Linked DNA regions of Homo sapiens. The protein of the gene in region 2 purifies or fractionates together with the protein of the main gene of each other region. This does not show direct contact. Each region holds a gene or a part of one and is shown on either strand. Other genes may lie near its edges. The genes, in order: MECR, MTRF1L, PRPSAP2 and TTC4.

The links.
Region 1: the proteins of MTRF1L (region 2) and MECR fractionate together in Homo sapiens (co-fractionation; one large-scale study listed by BioGRID). This does not show direct contact.
Region 3: the proteins of MTRF1L (region 2) and PRPSAP2 fractionate together in Homo sapiens (co-fractionation; one large-scale study listed by BioGRID). This does not show direct contact.
Region 4: the proteins of MTRF1L (region 2) and TTC4 purify together in Homo sapiens (affinity purification with mass spectrometry; one large-scale study listed by BioGRID and IntAct). This does not show direct contact.

Annotation. Positions count from the first base shown.
Region 1 is NC_000001.11:29,202,738-29,208,548, reverse strand, and holds part of MECR (enoyl-[acyl-carrier-protein] reductase, mitochondrial), read left to right. Parts: intron 1-1,643; coding exon 1,644-1,787; intron 1,788-5,315; coding exon 5,316-5,418; intron 5,419-5,811. UniProt on the Homo sapiens protein: Catalyzes the NADPH-dependent reduction of trans-2-enoyl thioesters in mitochondrial fatty acid synthesis (fatty acid synthesis type II).
Region 2 is NC_000006.12:152,995,256-153,001,066, reverse strand, and holds part of MTRF1L (peptide chain release factor 1-like, mitochondrial), read left to right. Parts: intron 1-2,431; exon of another isoform or gene 2,432-2,437; coding exon 2,438-2,517; coding exon of another isoform or gene 2,518-2,541; exon of another isoform or gene 2,542-2,774; intron 2,775-2,913; exon of another isoform or gene 2,914-3,062; intron 3,063-5,747; coding exon 5,748-5,811. UniProt on the Homo sapiens protein: Mitochondrial peptide chain release factor that directs the termination of translation in response to the peptide chain termination codons UAA and UAG.
Region 3 is NC_000017.11:18,863,654-18,869,464, reverse strand, and holds part of PRPSAP2 (phosphoribosyl pyrophosphate synthase-associated protein 2), read right to left. Parts: intron 3,997-5,811; 5' UTR 3,901-3,996; intron 3,664-3,900; coding exon of another isoform or gene 3,632-3,663; coding exon 3,513-3,631; intron 2,209-3,512; exon of another isoform or gene 2,184-2,208; coding exon 2,131-2,183; intron 1-2,130. UniProt on the Homo sapiens protein: Seems to play a negative regulatory role in 5-phosphoribose 1-diphosphate synthesis.
Region 4 is NC_000001.11:54,729,361-54,732,860, reverse strand, and holds part of TTC4 (tetratricopeptide repeat protein 4), read right to left. Parts: intron 1,376-3,500; coding exon 1,161-1,375; intron 1-1,160.

The DNA.
Region 1 (5,811 bases), on a different chromosome or scaffold from region 2:
ACTGGAATGTGGGCTGGGAGTTGATGCTCATTTCTTTCAAGCTTATAGAATTTTTCATTTCCTTATCTCATTTGATTTCTACAGTAGCTCCTGGAGGAGGCGAGTCAGGCTGTTCTTGCCTGTGCTATTTACACATTAGAGTAACTAAAACTCAGTGACAGGAATTTTCTCAAACTAGCAGAATAGCAAAACCAGGTTTGGCATCTGTGCTCTTGACTTCTACTTTTATGCTTTGTTGCCTAAAACTACCTGAGTCAGGCCGGGCGCAGTGGCTCACGCCTGTAATCCCAGCACTCTGGGAGGCCGAGGCGGGCGGATCAGCTGTGGTCAGGAGTTCGAGACCAGCCTGGCCAACATGGTGAAACCCATCTCTACTAAAAATACAAAAATTAGCCGGGCGTGGTGGCAGGTGCCTGTAATCCCAGCTATTCGGGAGGCTGAGGCAGGTGAATCGCTTGAACCCAGGAGGCAGAGGTTGCAGTGAGCCGAGATCATGCCATTGCACTCCAGCCTGGGAGACAAGAGCAAGACTTCATCTTAAAAAAAAAAAACATGTGAGTCAACCTGCTCTGGATGAGAAGAATGAGGACTGTGTAGGAAAAAGGGGGCTTTCTCAGCTTCTCCTGCCCTGGTGGTAATGTTACTACTGTCTTACCCTTAGATTGCAGCAGTTTGAGGTCATTAACTACCTGCACGGTGACATTAACTAAATCTAATGGTAACTCAGAGAAGCAGCCTCTCTGAATCGCCCTTACAATGGTATTTGGCATATTTTGTTTTGGTTTGTTTTTTGTTTTTTGGGTTTTTTTGAGACAGGTTCTTGCTGTGTCACCGAGGCTGGAGTGCAGTCACACAATCATAGCTCACTGTGTCCTTAAATTACTGGGCTCAAGCAATCTTCCCACTTCAGCCTCATGAGAAGCCGGGACTGCAGGGCATTATGCCCAGCTAATTTTTTTTTTTTTTTTTTCTGTAGAGACAAGGTCTCACTATGTTGCCCAGGCTGGTCTTGAGCTCCTGGCCTCAAGCAGTCCTCCCACCTTGCCTCCCAAAGTGCTGAGATTATAGGCATGAGCCACCACACCCCATTTTTACTACATGTTTAAGATAAGAATGACTGTCTATTTTGGGCCAGGCACAGTGGCTCATGTGTGTAATCCCAGCACTTTGGGAAGCCGATGCAGGCGAATCACCTGAGACCGGGAGTTCAAGACCAGCCTGACCAACAAGGCAAAACCCTGTCTCTACTAAAAATAAATAAATTAGCCATGTATGGTAGTGCATGCCTGTAATCCCAGCTACTCAGGGGGCTGCAGCATAAGAATCACGAACCCAGGAGGCGGAAGTTGCAGTGAGCCAAGATCGCGCCATTGCACTCCAGCCTGGGCTACAGAGCAAGACTCTGTCTCCAAAAAAAAAATTAAAAAGAATAACAATCTATTGTGCATAATTATCATGAGGACTCAGACATTCAGAGGAACGTCCAGATTTTCTTCTTTTTCTAAACATCCTGGATGCTATCCTGGATGCTTCCAGTGGATGCTACCCACTATCCTGGATGCTTCTTGGCCAAGGAGGGTGAGCTGGGGTTGAATGTGCACAGGGCTCCTTCCTTATGATCCTGGCTTCATCTTCTGACTCAGGAACCTGGCGGACCGAGGCTGTGTTCAGCGAGGAAGCACTGATCCAAGTTCCGAGTGACATCCCTCTTCAGAGCGCTGCCACCCTGGGTGTCAATCCCTGCACAGCCTACAGGATGTTGATGGACTTCGAGCAACTGCAGCCAGGTAGGAACCCACAGGTTGGGGGAGCAGGCCAGGGTCTCGCAACTAGGGTGCCACTCACATCCTGACCCCAAGGCCAGGAGAACTTGCAAGGTGGAGGTTTTGAGGGGGTGATGGACCTCTCACCTGGGTGAATGTTGTTGCTTTCACTTAGAAAGATGTTAGCTTGGTTCCTAGGAAACATGCTGAAACCTCATGAGGAGTACACTCTCGAAAACTGCTGCAGGGTCACATTCTCTAGAGCTTGGGATTGAATTCTGTCATTCAGCAAAAATGTGTTGAGCTGGGGCTAAGCTCTGGGATACAAAGGCAGACAAGATAGACACAGTCCCTATGTTTTCAATAAAATGCTGAACTTAGTGTTAATAATTCCACTCAGCGTTTACATAGCACTTTCCAGTTCACAGAAGTGCGTTGACAGGCATTATCCCCGTTGAGTGCATGAAATCTTCACAGCATTGCAGTAAGGTTGGTACCATCATTGGTTAAGAGCTCAAGCTCTGGGCAGATAACCTGGGTCTGACCCCAGGCTTCACCTTTCCCTGACTGTGAATTTGCCTCTCAAATCATCAGATTTTTCTTCTGTAAAATGGAGAATAAAGAACGTGGAGGGTGAAACACTACAGCATAATACTTCACACAGTGCTGGGCATACAGTGCAGAGACTGTCCGCTGCTTATATTCTTCTTCCCTTTCATAAATGGGAAAACTGAGGTCCAGAAAGGTAAACTATTTGCATGAGATCAGCCAGGGAGTAAATGACAGAGCCAAGTGTTTTTATTTGGGTTTCTCTGAAAGCAGAGCCTAAGACCAGCACTGGGTGCAGAGAGTTTGTTTGGGAAGAAGAAATGAAGGGGAGTGGGGAGAGTGAGACAGAGATGGAGGCAAAGCCCATGAAGCCCGGTTACTGCTGCGGGCAACTACTGCTCCGGCTGTTTTTTTGAGACAGTCGTGCTCTGTCGCCCCGGCTTGAGTGCAGTGGCGTGGGCTCACTGCAACCTCCACCTCTCGGGTTCAAGGGATTCTCCTGCCTCAGCCTCCCAGGTAGCTGAGACTACAGGTGCCTGCCACCATGCCTGGCTAATTTTTGTATTTTTAGTAGAAATGGGGTTTCACCATATTGGCCAGGCTGGTCTCTAACTCCTGACCTTGTGATCCGCCCACCTCAGCCTCCCAAAGTGCTGGGATTACAGGCGCGAGCCACCCACCCCCAGCCGGCCTGCTCAGTCTTGCTGGGGCCCTCTGAAGACTCTCAGAACCCACTGCAGAATTAACCCTTAAGGCCAGGCATGGTGTCTCATGCCTGTAATCCCAGCACTTTGGGAGGCTGAAGCTGGCAGATCACTTGAGGTCAGGGGTTTGAGACCAGCCTGGCCAACATGGTGAAAACCCGTCTCTACTAAAAATACAAAAATTAGCCCGGCGTGGTGGCAGCGCCTGTGACCCCAGCTACTCAGGAGGCTGAGGCAGGAGAATCGCTTGAACCCGGGAGGCGGAAGTTGCAGTGAGCCAAGATTGCACCACCGCACTCCAGCCTGGGCAACAGAGCAAGACACCATCTCAAAAACAAAACAAAACAAAACAAAACAAAAACTAACCCTTGAATGATGAGAGGCTGGGCCAGTTTTCCACTAATTCTCACACCCCATTGTTTAAGGGTCGCCCTAAGGGCATTAACCTCCTGGGCTGCCTCTGCACACCATGCACATCCATGCACATCCGTGAGCCGCAGTGGCTGTAGAACTCACCCAAGCCACCTCTCATACCAGCGAAGAAACTGAGGCCCACAGTTGTTGGAGTGTGATGAAACATGGTGCCCAGCCACTGTCCAAGGCCTGGCTGAAAGCCGATGCCAGTTCCCACAAGAGAAATATAGGTTTCTTGCAACTATGGCAGATGGTTCCTGGGAGCCTTTGGTGGAGAAAGCCAGTGGCTGTGACCAGGGACCTTTGCTGGAGTCCTAGTGCAGCAGACACTTTGTTTGCTTGCATCCCATGCCCTAAAGCCACCTCCCATTTAGGCTGCAGCTGTAGTAACAGATCTAGGCATTTCGACGCTGCCCACCCTAAGTACCCACTGCACACCTCTCCACTTTCCTGCCTCAAGGCTGATATGGCCTGAACTAGATCACTGTTGAATAAACTTAGGATCTTGACACATGGTAAGAATTACATTTTATATTGTGATCAGTTTATACAAATAGGAATATATATATAATGGAAACCAAAGTTTCGTGAAATACCCTTACTATGTGTGACATACTCTGTTATTTTTTATTCTCTTCTCAATTTTAACTTTAAAAAAAAAAGGTGCTTGCAACCAACTAGATTGATTCATAATCCACTGGTGGGTGACAACCTGTACGTTGACCCCTGGTGAAGACGAGTGGGCATTCTTCTTCCAGGAAGTCCTCTATCTCTAGTTTCAGCCCGTTGTGTGACAGATCCCTGCTGCCTCTCAAAAACCAGATAGCATTTCAAATTCAACAAAGCACTTTCCCGGACACGATGCATTTGACTCTAATCGGGGGCACTTTTTTTTTTTAATAGAGGGAGTCTCGCTCTGTCACCCAGGCTGGAGTACAGTGGCGCGATCTCAGCTCACTGCAACCTCCACCTCCCGGGTTCAAGCGATTCTCCTGCCTCAGCCTCCCTAGTAGCTGGGATTATATTTTAAGGGAAGGAAACTGAAGTTCACAGAGGTCATGACTTGCCCTGTCTGTTTAGTTACAATCATTGGTGAAACTGAGACTCATGCCCAGATCTGTCTCATTCCAGAGCCCACATTTTTCCCAGCATGTCACACCGCCTTCCCCAATGGCCAGGTCCAAAGCTAAACCTGGGCTTTGCCACAGAACTGTAGGACCCTGTTTCAGGGGCTGCCAGTTTCTCCAGCGCAGCTGTAATCCCATTTCAAGGCAGTGCACCTTTATTAAACACTGCAGAGAGGAATAGGGCATGACCCTTCCCTCTCAAGAAGCTGCAAGCTGTTGATAGAAATGGACCTATATACAATGAAGTGTAAGATGGGGCAGACCGTGGTATGTGCATTAATACAGATGCCCACAGAGCACTGTGGGAGCACATAGAGGGAACAATCCAGGAAGGCTTCATGAAGGCTGCACTTGAGCTGCGCTTCAAAGGATCTACAGGATTTCAATAGGAAGGAAGAGAGAAGGAGGGAAACATTGCAAACCAAGGAAATAACCTAAGTAAAGACTTGAGGACATAAAAGTTGGGAGGATGACGAAGGCTATAAAATATTTTACATAGCAGGGCAGGGTCTAAATTATATCCAGTGTAGATGCTGAGTTGCCAAGTCCTGGGAGGCATCGTGAGTGTTGTGGAAGTTTAGGAGGCATTAGGAGAACAGTGAGAAACAGTGGAAGGTCTGAGAAGACTCAGCAGCCAGGTCCTGGGTCCCTGTTGAGCCTGAGGACTCCCTTGCCTACAGAAGGATCCCCGGCTGGGAGCCTTTGACCTATTGCAGATCTATACAGGGCTTGATTTGGTTCTCTTCCTGGCTCCACAGGGGATTCTGTCATCCAGAATGCATCCAACAGCGGAGTGGGGCAAGCAGTCATCCAGATCGCCGCAGCCCTGGGCCTAAGAACCATCAATGTGGTCCGAGACAGGTGCGTGGGGAAGGAGGCTTCATCCCAGACCATGTCTTGGGTCTTTCCCACCTCCCATCCCTGCGGTGCCCAGTTGTCCACCAGAGGGCGCCCTTGCATAAGCATAAACTGGCTTTAGGCATCGCTAACAGTTGGCGGCTGAAACAGATGAGTCAGTCCTAAGAAATGAAGTCCAGCTGGCTTTTGGCGATAGGATGAGTGAATCTGACATGTAAAGAGAGGGCAGGAAGGAGGTGGAGACTGCCCTTACTGAATAGCTAAGACTTTCTGAGACTCTTGGCTTGTGATAACCTCATGTTTTCAAAACCCCAGTTGATATTTGGGAATGATTTGAGCTGTATTATTCTTTCTGTGAACTGTCTAACCCAAGGCCCCTTTACCCTTGCTTTTGTG
Region 2 (5,811 bases):
ACCCTGTCTCTACAAACAATGCAAAATTAGCTGGGCATGGTGGTGCGTGCCTGTGGTCCCAGCTACTTGAGAGGCTGAGGTGGGAGAATCGCTTGAACCCGGGAGGTGGAGGTTGCAGTGAGCCAAGATGGTGCCACTGCATTCCAGCCTGGGTGACAGCGCAAGACCCTGCCTCAAAAAAAAAAAAAAAAAAAAAAAATCCGTAGTACCTGACATAGAAAGGTAAAACAACCTTTTCAGCTCACACTGAAATAAGTCTTTAGATTTGGCAATTTTGTCATTGGTAACTTGAATAAAAATGGTCTTGATATGATTATAGAATCCAGTGTAACAGCTTGAGAGGTAAATTAGAGTTAACAGGAGAAAAGTTATAAAAATGGCATTTTATCTCCAGAAATCTGGGTGGGAAAAGAGGGGTGACAATAAGCAGCTACTTAAAGGGTTGAAAAGAAAAGGACCCATTTAGAATGGGAAACCATAAACATCTTTATAGGCAAAGGGGAAGGCAGGCACATGGTAGGTGTCCAGTAAACATATGTTGATTTATAATATTCAAGAGAAATTAAAGAAGTAGTATATTACCATTGCCTGTGAGTAACTCCTAATTCTAAACCCTTTAGAGCTGCACTGTCCAATATAGTAGCCAGTAGCCACACAGCTGTTGAGCAATTTGTGGCTAGTCTGAATTGAGGTGTGTAAGTGTAAAATACATATAGATTTCAAACACCTGGTATAAAAAGTAATATGTTTATGTTAATTACATGTTGAAATAATATTTGGAGCATATTGGGTTAAATAAAATATAGTATTAAAATTAAATTACTTCTAGACTCTAGTTCCAATCTCCTTAGCTTTGCAGAACTGAAAGGCACCTTAGAGATTATCCAGCTCAGAACTTTCATTTCATTCTTGTCATAACTGAAAGAAGTTGAGCCTATTGCCCTAACAGTACCTTAGCGATTAAGCTAGGGCTAGAATTCATTTTTGCTTTTCCTAACACATTTTCCATTCTACCAAATTTCTTCCATACCATATGCTTGCCAAAATAATTTTCAGCAGTGCTTCCTGTACTTGCTTATCTCAGTTTTGCTGTTGTTATTCTCTCTCCTTGAGTTAATCTTTTTTTCCTTTTTCTGCCCATTCCAAAACCAACAGATTCCTTCAAGGCACAACTGTTTTAATATTTAATCACATAGTGTATTAGTCTGTTTTCACACTGCTGATAAAGACATACCCAAGACAGGGTAATTTTTAAGAAAAAGAGGTTTAATAGACTAACAGTTCCACGTGGCTGGGGAGGCCTCCCAATCATGGTGGAAGGCAAAAGGCACGTCTTACATGGCAGCAGACAAGAGAGATAACTTGTGCAGGGGAACTCTTCTTTATAAAACCATCAGATCTTGTAAGACTTATTCACTATCATGAGAACAGCACAGGAAATATCTGCCCCCATGATTCAGTTACCTCTCACTGGGTCCCTCCCACAACAGGTGGGAATTGTGGGAGCTACAAATCAAAATGAGATTTGGGTGGGGACACAGCCAAACCATGTCACATAAGGGTTTAGGTTATTTTTTGTTTTTCTCTTCTAGAAAAATATAAGGAAACTAAAATTATCTATAATGCTCTCTTGAGGGCAGGTCTTATATATGTATTATCCCACTTCCCAGCATGGTTGTTTCTTAATAGATAAGCATACAAACTGATGCTTTGTAAGGGTTTGAACTTTCAATAGAGAGAACAATTTGTTAATAGCCAGAAATTTTCCCTTTCCTCCTCCTTTATATATGCTGCATATCATCTATAGGGTAGAGGAATGAGAAAGTATGTTTTATAAGGTAAAAATGAAAATTCAAAGATGAAACAACAATAAAGGTAAAGCCAGAGAGAGAGACAGAGGAGTACTTCGTATAAACATTCTGTATACATTAGGCAGAATCTAATAAATGTTTTTGGGTGGATACTAAAATACTAATGAAACATTTGCTTATAAGAGAATAAATTTCTACTTTTTAATTGAATTTTAGTTTTACTGGTGTAACCTTCTGTATCCCTTCTGTCTTATTAGCTAAATGCATTCGTTATTATACAGTCTAAGTTGGAAGTCTAAAAGCATATTTATTAAGGTGAATATTTCATGGAGATGAAATTATGGAAGAGTTTAGCTTCTTTATATTTTTATAGAAATTTGTACTTGTACTTTATCAGAAAAAAAATTTTATACTTACATGCTTATGAAAACTAATGTATAAAATGGTGAAATTGATTGAAAGGACATTTATTGAAAGGCATTTATTGAATGGTATTTATTGAAAGGACAAGATATACATTTTATTTTTCCCTTCAGCTATAATAACCATAAAACTATTTCCTAGAAGTCTGCTAGCAATTTAACACTAATTAAGGAAAACCTTAACTTCTGCCCTTTTTTTCCTAGATGAGAATGAAGATTTAAGGAAACTTGCAGAGAATGAAATCACTTTGTGTCAAAAAGAAATAACTCAGCTGAAGCATCAGGTATGGTATTTCTGCAAAGAATAAAGCATTTGTGCTATTCTTAGGCATTAAAGTTTATTAAAGGTTTATAAAAACAAGTGACTAGCTTGTTACTGTTTAGAATAAACTGGGTTTTTTAAATTTATTTTCTAGATTTATTGAGGTATAAATTGACCCCCAAAATTGCATATATTTAAGGTATATGATGTGATGTTTTGATATATGCATACATTTTGAAATGATTATGACTATCAATAAACTGGTTTTTAAAGAACAAACTTCACATGGTCCTGTTTTCATCATACTAAAAGTACTGTAGCGCTCTCACAGAAAGATAAATGTCACAGTGATAGTATTTTCTGGAAAGGCAGCGAAATAGTGGCATATCTTCCCTTTTTTTTTTTTTTTTTTTTTAAGAAGACTGGAGGTAGACATGGGGCAGAAGAGGTTATATGAAAGGACTTCAAAAGTTTGTGGAAAACTGGAATTAAAAGATAAAAAAATATATATATAAACTTTAATTTATTGACATAAGTGCCACCAGCTATCAAGTTCAAGACACTTTGGTAAGCAAAAAGGTGATATACCAGCATTTAATGCATCCCTAAAGAACTGAGGGTCCTGGGAATTTAACCATGTCAATGTAGTCTTTTTTATATTATTAACTAAAGAACAATGGGTACCCTTTACAAAGTTTTTAAGATCAGGAAACAAAAAAAAGGAGGAGCCAAATAAGGACTGTAACATGAGTGCCTATGGATTTCCCATTGAAGCTCTCAAAATTGCCTGTTTGATGAGAGGAATGAGCAGGAGCACTGGTGTAGGAGAGGACTCTGGTGAAGCTGTCCCTGGTATTTTGCTAAAACTCTGGCTTTCTCAAAACCCTCATAGTAAGCAGATACTGTTCTTTGGCCCCTAGAATGTCAATAAGCAAGGTGCCTTGAGAATCCCCAAAAAGACTATTGCCATGACTTTTGCCCCTAGCCAGTCTGCTTTTGCTTTGACTCGACCCCTTCCACCTCTTGGTGGCCATTGTTTTGATTGTACTTTGTCTCCAGGATCATACTGGTAAAGCCATGTTTCACTTCTGGTTATAATTCAAAGAAATGCTTTAGGATCTTGATCCAATTTGTTTAAAATTTCTATTGAAAGCTCTGCTCTTGCCTCCAGCTGATCTGCATGCAAAGGTTCTGGCACCCATCCAGTGGAAAGTTTGCTCACCTTTAATTTTTTTGTCAGAATTTTATAAGCTGAACCAGTTGAGATGTCTGTGGTTTGACTATTGTTTCTTCTGTTAATCATCAGTCTTCTTCAATTAGGGCATGAATAAGATAATTTTTTTCCTCACAAATTGATGCAGATGGTCTGCCACTGTGGACTTCTTCTTCAACATCATCTTGTCTCTACTTAAAATGAGTTATCCATTTGTAAACTGCTGATTTCTTCAGGGCATCATCCCCATAAACTTTTCATAAAGCATCAATGATTTCACCATTCTTCCACCCAAGCTTCACCAGCAATTTAATGTTTGTTCTTGCTTCAATTTAACAGAGTTCATATTGCTCTGATGGGGCTCTTTGCAAACTGATACCCTTTTTAGTACCTCAAACTAGAGCCTGTGACTTGTTATAACAAGTTAGCACGAGTTTATTTTGTTACAAAATAACTTTGAAATACAACTTCTTGAAGTCCCCTGTTAGAGTGATAGTAGACTGTGAGCTCCTCAGGGCCAGGAATACTTATTTTGCATCTCTGACACTATTTGGAATACCAGACCTAGAGTAAGCCCTCACGATTTTAAGAATTGGATTACATTGCTTTGGTTGTACATCTTTGTGAATTACAGAACATATAGAGTTAATGAAGAATAATTATATGAAATTAGAGCCACTCTTTGCTAATTCTGTAAAGCAGAGACTAAAGGTTGACAGCAATTACCGTTGGGGATAAGTGAAAGAATATGTTAGGTAAGGAAGGAGCCAGGAAAGGGGGTACTTATTTTTGAGAATCTGCTTCCCCTTTAGGCAAATGTGAAAATTACTAAAAATTAATGTTCCTATAACCTATGTTAGAGGGGGAGAATTCCACTATAAGGTGAAAAGTGTAGTATAGCTCGCATTTTACCCATTTTCTAAATTAAATTTTGTGTGAATAAGAAGGATATGTGTATTAAATGTTTCTGTTCAGTGTCTAGTAATCAACAAACAGAAGTAAAATCCATTATTTGTTCAAAATTTGAATGATAATGTTGTATTGGCATAGGCTAGAGAGATGGAAAAGTAGTAACTAGCATAGCTTCTGACCAATGTCAAGTGTGATAGCAGTGTACTCAGGTATATTCAGGTTCAATTCTAGCTCTTCCACTTAACTTTTGAGTTGGGTAATGTTGAGCCACTAGATTATTCAACCCCTGTAAAATTAGTTTCACATCTTAAGGTAGAACTGTTAATAATACTTACCCAAGATTGTTTTAAGAATTACAGTATGTACAGTGCTTAGAATGCCTGCCATATATTAAAGAACCAATAAAATGTTGGTAGCTTTTCTTATTAATTGACCTAATCTAAGAAGTGTTTGTTCTAGATCCCCTTGATTAGAAACACACTATTGTAATGGAGGGAAGACTGATCTAGGCACAAAGGTTTGTGTTCTTGTGCCTGCTTGGCCAGTAACTAACACTTTGCCCTTAAACAAGTCATTTAATCTCTGTTAAGCTCTGTTTCCTTTACATGTATAATTAAAGAATTGGACCAGATAATCTCTAAGGGCCTTTTTAGTTTCAAAATTACAAGTTTCTCTTCCATAATAAGAAATCTTAAAATAATACAAATGTAGTTTTGAGTGCTTTTGGTTTTCTGCCATACTAGGCCTTAATTTTCAAGAGGATGGATCTAGAATCTTCTTTTGCTTTCCACAACAGTATAATCTCCGAATCAGAGCAAGTACTTAGTTCTTATTAACTGAAGAGAGAACTGATACAAAGCATACAAGAACTCCAACAGACAATAAAACAAGCCTGAAATTTTAGCTGAATCTTAACAGCATTTATAATATGGTTGTAACATTAATACTTTATGGAAGTTACACATTATACAGTTCTAATTGGCAAGGTGGTTGAACAGTACTCAGCAATATTACATTATTTGCTTGGCGAAACTTAAATATTTAAAATTCCTGAATCATTTAGCTTTTTATTTTTTGATAAATTTTAAATCTTAATTATAGGAGGGGTGATATTTTTATATTTACAGATTATCTTACTTTTGGTTCCCTCAGAAGAAACAGATGAAAATGATTTGATCCTGGAAGTAACTG
Region 3 (5,811 bases), on a different chromosome or scaffold from region 2:
TGGGGAGGCTAAGGTGGGAGAAGCACATGAGCCCAGGAGGCAGAGGCTGCAGTGAGCCCTGATCATGCCACTACACCCCAGCCTGAGTGACACAGAAAGACCCTGTCTCAAAAAAAAAAAAAAGAAAAGAAAAGAAAAGAAAATGAGCTTTAGAGTCAGGGAGATCTGGATTCAAACTGGACCTCGTACCTAACATCAATCCCTGAACTCCTGAACTCAGTTTTTCAGTATCTGGTAACAGTAAGAAATTCACAAATATTACTTCCTTCCTTCCCAATAAACACCAAGTATTTTCTCTCCCTTTATTCAGAAACTTGGAGAGTGGACCAGTCTCCTGGAGTCTTATGCCACTGCTTCTCCCTTTCACCTTCCCTCCTAGACTCCAGACAAAGAACATCATTCAATCCCCTCTAGAGGAAGAATCTTCTCCAAACTCTCCTTGCAGAGTTTAATTATACTTTTTCCCTACTGACGCCACATAGGGATCTTGGGAGACAGAAAAGAGGCAGGAACGGAGATAAACATGGGAACAGCAAAACTTGTGCCTTTTTATCAAAGCCTCCTGTAGGCTTTATAATATGTAAATATTTGATAAAATCCTGTAGAGGGGCCAGGCCTGGTGGCTCACACCTGTAATCCTAGCACTTTGGGGGGCTGAAATAGGAGAACTGCTTTTGCCCAGAGTTTGAGATAAGCCTGGGCAACATAATGAGACCCTTGTTCTACCAAAAAAAAAAAAAATGTTTTTTTAAATCTTCTAGTGGAAAAGGAACAGGAATAAGTATATATTGAGCACCTACTGTGTGCCAAAAACTGGTAGGCACACAAGTTATCCCACTTAATCCTCAAAACAGCCCTAATTTACAGTTTATTTATAGTTTAGAAAGGTTAAATAACTTGTCAAGGATAAGGTGTGTAACTCTCAAGCCCATGCAAGCTGTCCATCGCTCCTGCTAAAATAATTTCTTTTTTTTTTTTTTTCCCCTGAGACAAAGTCTCGCTCTTGTTCCCCCCCAGGCTGGAGTGCAATGGCACAATCTTGGCTCACTGCAACCTCCACCGCCCGGGTTCAAGCGATTCTCCTGCCTCAGCCTTCCCAGGAGCTGGGATTATAGGCGCCTGCCACCAAGCCCAGCAAATTTTTGTATTTTTAGTAGAGACAGGGTTTCATCATGTTGGCCAGGCTGGTCTACGAACTCCTGACCTCAGGTGATCCGCCCACCTCGGCCTCCCAAAGTGCTGGGATTACAGGCGTGAGCCACCACGCCTGGCCTAAAATAATTTCAAATATCCACCATTGCTAAAGAAATTACAAAGATCACTTTCTATTTATTTATTTATTTATTTTTGAGACAGGGTCTCACTCTGTGGTATGATCACACTTCACTGCAGCCTCCACCTCCTGGGCTCAAGCGATCCTTCCACCTCAGCCTCCCTAGTAGCTGGGACTACAAGTGCAAACCACCACTCCTGGCTAATTTTTGTATTTTTAGTAGAGACAGGGTTTTGCCGTGTTGCCCAGGCTGGTCTCAACTCCTGAGCTCAAGGAATCTGCCTGCCTCAGCCTCCCAAAGTGCTGGCATTAGATGCATGAGCCAGCACACCTGGACCTACAAAGGTTAAATAACACTTCTTTTTACAACTTGGGAGAATTATGTAATGACATGTATCAATTAGCAAAAAGTATTTCTTAACAATATTTTATGAAGTCTAACCCAAGGCAGCTTAGGTGCAAATAAAGACTAACTAAAACTGCGGTCACACAGGATTTAGTCATCCTGTCTAAGGTGACAGGATTTACTCATCCTTCCTAAGGTGACATAAATTTAAGCAACAGTTGAGCTCATGTTCATTCAGTTGACCAGCTGGTTCAAATATGTCTGCAGCTTTTACTGAATGAAGTCTCAGAACTGCAGTTCAAGCCCCAGAAATGACTTGCACCAGGGTTAGATATCTAGCTGGTATTAGTGAGAGCTAAAAAACCACTCTGTTCTACCTTGCCTGCCTGACTTCTTGCTAATGGAAATGTACAACTGAATCAAATCGTTTCAATAGTAAAGGATGAAGGACGGAGCCAATATGCCACATTTCACAAAAAGGTCAATGTTCCACATGCCCAAGATAGCTCACCTCTGTTAGGTTCCTGGTAAACCTGCACTTTGCCCATCTCCACCCCTAGCCGCCTAGAGAAGAGAAAGGGGGAAAAAGCTGAAAAAGTAATAGAAGAAACCCAGTATCTTTACTATTTAAGGAGACTCGTAAATCGATAAGAGTAAAATAAAATAAAGTTATTCTTCTTATAAAATTTAAAGTCAACATTAAATTGTTACATCAATCCATTACCTAGCCCCTCACCCCAACCCCATGTCTCCCCAGGAAGGACTATGCAGTCCCGCTCTGCCTGCCTCACTAGCCATCTTCCTTGGACACTCTGTACTCCAGCCCACGTTCCTGAGACACACCAAGAACTCCTCCTGCATGCTGCAGAGGCTTGGAATCTGCTGTCCCCTCTGCTTGGGGGGGTTCTGCCTCCAGACCTTCACTTGGTGGCTCATTCAGGTTTCTCAACTCACACACCATCCCTTCAGTTTAAAAGCACTTCAGCACACATGCTAAAGCAGAACAACCTGCCCCATCATTACTTTCACACAGTTTTCTTCATAGCATTGACATCATCTGAAATTACCTTGTTTGTTTTGTTGACTTGATTTCTGTTTGGCTCCCATACTAAAATGTAAATTTCATAAAAAGGATGGATCTTGACTCACTGATAATCCCCAACATCTAGATCAAGGTCTAGTACACAGTAGTAGGGGTACAATATTTGTTTAATAAATATCTAAAATTATACTAAACTATAAGCTATAAGTTATTTCATATAATATACATGTTAATGTTCTTTTTTTGAGACAGAGTCTCGTTCTGTTGCCCAGGCTGGAGTGCAGTGGTGCAATCTCAGCTCACTGCAACCCTCCTGCGTTCAAGCGATTCTCCTGCCTCAGCCTCCCAAGTAGCTGGGACTACAGGTGCCCGCCACCACGCCCAACTAATTTTTTGTATTTTTAGTAGACGCGGGGTTTCACCTTGTTAACTAGGATGGTCTCAATCTCCTGACCTCGTGATACACCCGCCTTGGCCTCCCAAAGTGCTGGGATTACAGGCGTGAGCCACCGCGCCTGGCCCCAGTGTGCTTTATACTCAAATAATTATATATATATATAGCATCTAACACAATCCCTGGCACTTATAAGGCACTCAATAAATGTCTGCTGAAAGAATATGTAGGGAGATGGGATAGTTTACAAAAAGAATAGCCCTTAATATATACAGATGAGACATACTACATGAACATCTTGCATGATGAAAAAAAAGATACATGATGAAAAAAAGATATAATTATTTTATAATTATAAAATATCTGCTTTCAAATTTAACAATAACTGCTAATCTGATTATCAAATTTAAAGCATCACATAATGAATATAGATTTTAATGGTACAATTATAACTCACTCTGCAATTTTCTTTGATAGCTCCATACATGATGAATTCGAGTTTGCTGAAAACAACACCAGACCACCTTTGGTTATGTTCATCTTGGTTTCTAATTCAGGTGGCGTCACACAAAACATCAAAACCTTCTTGGTTTTCCAATTTTCAGAGCCTAGAAGGATATAATACTTATTAAAAACTGCCATATGATATGAAATATACCTGAATGAATTTTTTTTAAAGGAAATGACTTCAGCTGAAGGAAATTAGTTTCCATCCTAATAGTATTTTTTAAATATTAGATATATATGGACAAACAGAAAGTTCAGTTGGATTTCAGGGTCCTAAATTTATGGAAATACATTATCACATGATGTTCACAACCACTAAGAAGAAATGATAAACTTACAAGAAAGGCGGAGCTGAAGAGCTCAATGTTTTACTGATTGCTGCTTAAAGTCAATTATGGACAACCTCCTTTTATTCTCTGACAACAAAATTCCTCCTGGATTAACACACAGAAAAATGGCAGAGCCATTAGCGAGAACAAGGACTGATTAATCCTTAGACAAAGAATAAATGACCCATCTACACCCAGCTTTTCCTGTAATCCTTGTTTACCATAAAACCTTTCCCGGCCTTTCAGCTGCCCTGTGTCATGTCTAAAACTGACCTCTCATCTTCATTTTCCTCAAGTGGAACACGGGCTGACTAGATAATCACCTTGAAGGACACTTAAGCGACCACCCAAATGACAGTTTTGGTCACACCCAAATTTTGGCAGTGGGCCAAAAATAAAAAGGTCCCTGGCTTATAAATCATCAGTGCTGGTCAGATGTGGTGGCTCACGCCTGTAATCCTAGCACTTTGGGAAGCCAAGGCAGGCAGATCACGAGATCAAGAGATCAAGACCACCCTGGCCAACATGGTGAAACCCTGTCTCTACTAAAAATACAAAAAATAGCTGGGCATGGTGGCGCGTGCCTGTAGTCCCACCTACTCGGGAGGCTGAGGTAGGAGAATGACGTGAACCTGGGAGGCAGAGGTTGCAGTGAGCTGAGATCGTGCCACTGCACTTCCAGCCTGGCGACACAGCAAGACTCCATCTCAAAAAAAAAAAGTCGTCATCATTGCTGAGTGTCCTCATCACATAATGGAGATGCTAGATGGGAGGAACAGCAACAATCCAGCAGGCTGTGGGCAGGGGGGCCCTTTCTCAGCAAGCCCACTGCATTTCCACAGTTGTATGTTCACCTGGGACCTCTGGGAAGGCTGGTGTAGATCATCAATGAGCTGAAACTAAGCTAATCTTTTTCATTATTCTCAAATTTTAATTATACAAGTAAAACACAAACACATCCTCCCTATAAAAACCTGAAACATGGCTGGGCGCGGTGGCTCAGACCTGTAATCCCAGCACTTTGGGAGGCCAAGGCAGGCGGATCACAAGGTCAGGAGTTCAAGACCAGCCTGGCCAAAAGGGTGAAATCTGTCTCTACTAAAAATACAAAAATGAGCTGGGCGTGGTGGTGGCTGCCTATAGTCCCAGCTACTCTAGAGGCTGAGGCTTGAGAATCGCTTGAACTCAGGAGGCAGAGGTTGCAGTGAGCCAAGATTGCACCACTGTACTCCAGCCTGGGCAACAGAGCGAGACTCCGTCTCAGAAAAAAAAAAAAACCTGAAACATGATAGTTAAGGATAAAGTCACCAGCCTCGATCCCAGGTCCTCCCCAGAAGTGAGGGTTCTTATCAGTTTGGTAGGGACAACATAAGACTTTTTCTATGCATTTATACATGTGACCTCCATAAAAATTATATACGGCCAGGCACAGTGGCTCACGCCTGTAATCCTAGCACTTTGGGAGGCTGAGGTGGGCAGATCACTTGAGGCCAGGAGTTCGAGACCAGCCTGACCAACATGGTGAAACCCCATCTCTACTAAAAATACAAAAAAATAAAAATAAAAATAAGCCAGGCATGGTGGTACATGCCTGTAATCCCAGCTACTCATGAGGCTGAGGCAGGAGAATCGCTTAAACCCAGGAGGCAGAAGTTGCAGTGAGCTGAGATCCACTGCACTCCAACCTGGGCAATGAGAACAAAACTCCATCTAAAAAATTAAAAAAAAAAAAAAAAAAAAAAGGCCACGCAGTGGCTTACGCCTGTAATCCCAGCACTTTGGGAGGCCGAGGTGGGTGGATCACCTGAGGTCAGGGGTTCGAGACCAGCCTGGACAACATGGCGAAACGCTGTCTCCACTAAAAATACAAAAGATTAGCCGGGCGTGGTGGCAGGTGCCTGTAGTCCCAGCTAATCGGGA
Region 4 (3,500 bases), on a different chromosome or scaffold from region 2:
TCCTGTCTTGGCCTCCCAAAGTGTTGGGATTACAGGCATGAGCCACCATGCCCAGCTGACATAATTTTCTTTAAACAGCTTCAAGGTTAAAAACATTTCTGGTAGGGTGCAGTGGCTCATGCCTGTAAATCCCAGCACTTTGGGAGGCCGAGGTGGGAGGAACATTCGAGCCCAGGAGTTCAAGACAAGCCTGGGCAACATAGAGAGACTCTGTGTCTACCAAAGAATTAAAAAATTACCCAGATGTGGTGATGTTCACCTGTAGTCCCAGCTACTTGAGAGGCTGAGGCAGGAGGATCACCTGAGCCTGGGGGCTGGAGGCTGTGATGAACCATAATCATGCCACTGCACTCCAGCCTGGGCAACAGAGCGAGACTTGGTCTCCAAAAAAAAAAAAAAAATTACAAAAAAACTTTTCTTACACTCTTACACTTAGACTCATTCTACACATTAACCCTATGAAATCACAAGTTAAGTCTGATATATATACATATCTATCAAAGACATACATATATCTCTTTTTTATTTTTTTTTTTTTTTGAGACAGAGTCTTGCTTTGTCACCCAGGCTGGAGTGTAGTGGCATGATCTCGGCTCACTGCACCCTCCACCTCCCAGGTTCAAGTGATTCTCATGCCTCAGCCTCCTGAGTAGCTGATATTACAGATGCCCAGCTAATTTTTTGTATTTTTAGTAGAGACTGGGTTTCACCATGTTGGCCAGGCTGGTCTCGAACTCCTGGCCTCAAGTAATCTGCCTGACTCGGCCTCCCAAAGTGCTGGGATTACAGGCATAAGCCACAGCGCCCAGCCTCTATATTTTTTTTTCTAATTAATATTCACTTAAATTGCTATGCATGTATTACCTAAAATGACTTCCTATTTCACCAGTGATGTGTACCACTCTTTGGCAAACACAATACTGTGGTGTTGCATGTACTAGCCCAGTTAGTATGACGATGAGACTTTTGTCTGTCGTTGCAAACCTAGTTAGTCAAGGTTCAGTCAGCTACAGGATAGAGAGGTTATTATCAAACCAGATGGTGTGAAACCCTCTAAACCATTATCTTCCCTTCTCAACCAAAAATCCACTCGTCCCTCCTGCCACAAAAACAGAGACAGCATGCAAGCAAAAGCAGAGGGCTCCTGGGCAAGTCAGTACCTGGAGTCCTCATGAAAAGCAGAGATGAAGTCCGACTGGGCATACTCTGGGTACAGAAAGAGCACAGGCCAGCTCAGCCTGCCCTGGCCATCTAGACTCAGCCTGGCTCCATGGGGGTTCTCAGTGCTGAGTCCATCCAGGAAAAGCTCACCTAGACCTTCTGAGGCTGAATCTTCATCCTCACAGGCAGCTTCTGAGAGCCTGATATTCCTAGCCTGGGTTAAAGACAGAAACACACACACATAATGCACATCTTATTGTGTGGGAGGATGCAAACCCATTTTACTGAAATAAAGAAACCATAATGCCTGGCTAATTTTTTTATTTTTTATTTATTTTTATTTTTTGAAGAGACGGAGTTTCACTATATTGCCCAGGCTGCACGACTAACTTTATTTTTAATTTAATTTTCTTCATCTGTACCCTGAATGAACATGGACAACTAACTTTAATACATCAAAAAACAAACAAACAAAAAAAAACACCATAACAATGGGAGCTCCCTGAGGGACAGCTCTACACACAATCCATCTTCATTATCCCTGAGGCCTGGCACATAGTAGGTACCACTTAACTCACCTTCATTGGGCATCTATCTTGTGCTGGACCCTGTGTCACAGAGAACTAGACATGGCTACCTGCCCTCAAGCCTCTGCTCAATATCAAGTGGTGAGACAGCTATGGAAATAATGATGATATAAGGTAAGAAGTGGAGTTGTAGTACCATAGACGATGGAATAATTAATTCAGCCTTGGGGGCTGGAGGTGACTGAGATATGCTAGGCCTTGAACAATGACTTTGAAAAGCAGAGAAGTTGGAAGGGAGGGGCACTTAGAAGGGAGGAAGAGCCTTCCACTCCAACGAGCAGCAAGTGCAAAAGGACAGAAAAGATAAAAAAAAAAAAAAAGAAATGTCAAATATTTCAGTTTAGTTGGGACATGGAATACTAGAAAGAGTGTGCATTGACTTAATCTTGACTGTCTCCTAGACATGGGCATAAATTAAGGGTCTGAAATAGTAGGGTCACCTCTTATGTAAGTGTGCAGGGGTGCCTAAGGTTAGCACATGAGGGGAAATGACATGCAATCAAAATTAGATTTGATGATATCCCCTAAATTGGAGGTTAGCAAACTTTTTCTTAAAGCATTAGATATGAAATATTTTAAGAGTTCTGGACAATGGTCTCTGTCAAAATTAACTACTCAACTCTGCCACTGTAGTGTGAAAACAGCCATAAGTAGTACATAAACAAATAGGCAGGGCTGTGTTCCAACGGCTGCAGTTTGCTGACTCCTCCCTTTAACCATTAGTAAAATACAGCATGCATGGCTTCGTGTACTGTTGAGAGTAACTCTTATGTATGCTAAGTTTGAGATGAAGGGTTACACTAAAGAAGAGAACCAAAAAAAAAAAAAAAAAGGATTTATGCAAATGTCTGGGTGTCTGGGCATCTCATATTCTACAATTAAGAAAACGAACAAATCCCTCACTGTGAATGAGAATTAGATGGAAAATCTGGAGTATTCTAATCTGTTTAACGTGTTAATACATGTAAACAGATTGTTGTGGGGAGGGAATAGTGGAGTATGTTTTAGCAGTGTTAAGTTTCTTACAGTCAACAAGTAACATAAATGGTGCATAATTTAACTGAACAAATAATAAAACAAAAAACCTACCCCGGTTGGGCACCGTGGCTCACGCCTATAATCCCAGCACTATAGGAGGCCAAGGCAGGTGGATCGCCTGAGGTCAAGAGTTCAAGACCAGCCTGACCAATATGGTGAAACCCCGTCTCTACTAAAAATACAAAAATTAGCTGGGCATGGTGGTGTGCACCTGTAGTCCCAGCTACTCGGGAGGCTGAAGCAGAATTGCTTGAACCCAGGAAGTGGAGGCTGCAGTGAGCCGAGATTGCACCACTGCACTCCAGCCTGGGTGACAGAGAGACATTCCATCTCAAAAAAAAAAAAAACCTATCCCATAATCTCCCAGCAGATATTCTCTCCTTTGTTAAGACCAAACAATCTCAAACAGGTGACTCCCTAGGTATCAAGGTTAAAGCAAGATTTGGGTCAGACTATATATATTTCAAAATACAGAAAAGAGAAAGACAGGGTGGCATTTTGTTATTGTTGTTGTTGTTATAGGAACAACATCCTAAAATGTCAGACTTTCTCAGGATGCTGTACAACCCAGTGGTTAAGAGCAAGGACCCGGCTCTAACACATGTTAGCTGTGTAAGGTTTCTTCACCTCTCTGAAACTATTATCCAAAAAAACAGAAGCAAGACAACCTATTTCAGAAGGCCACTGTGAAGCTTAAATAACACTTAACCCAAA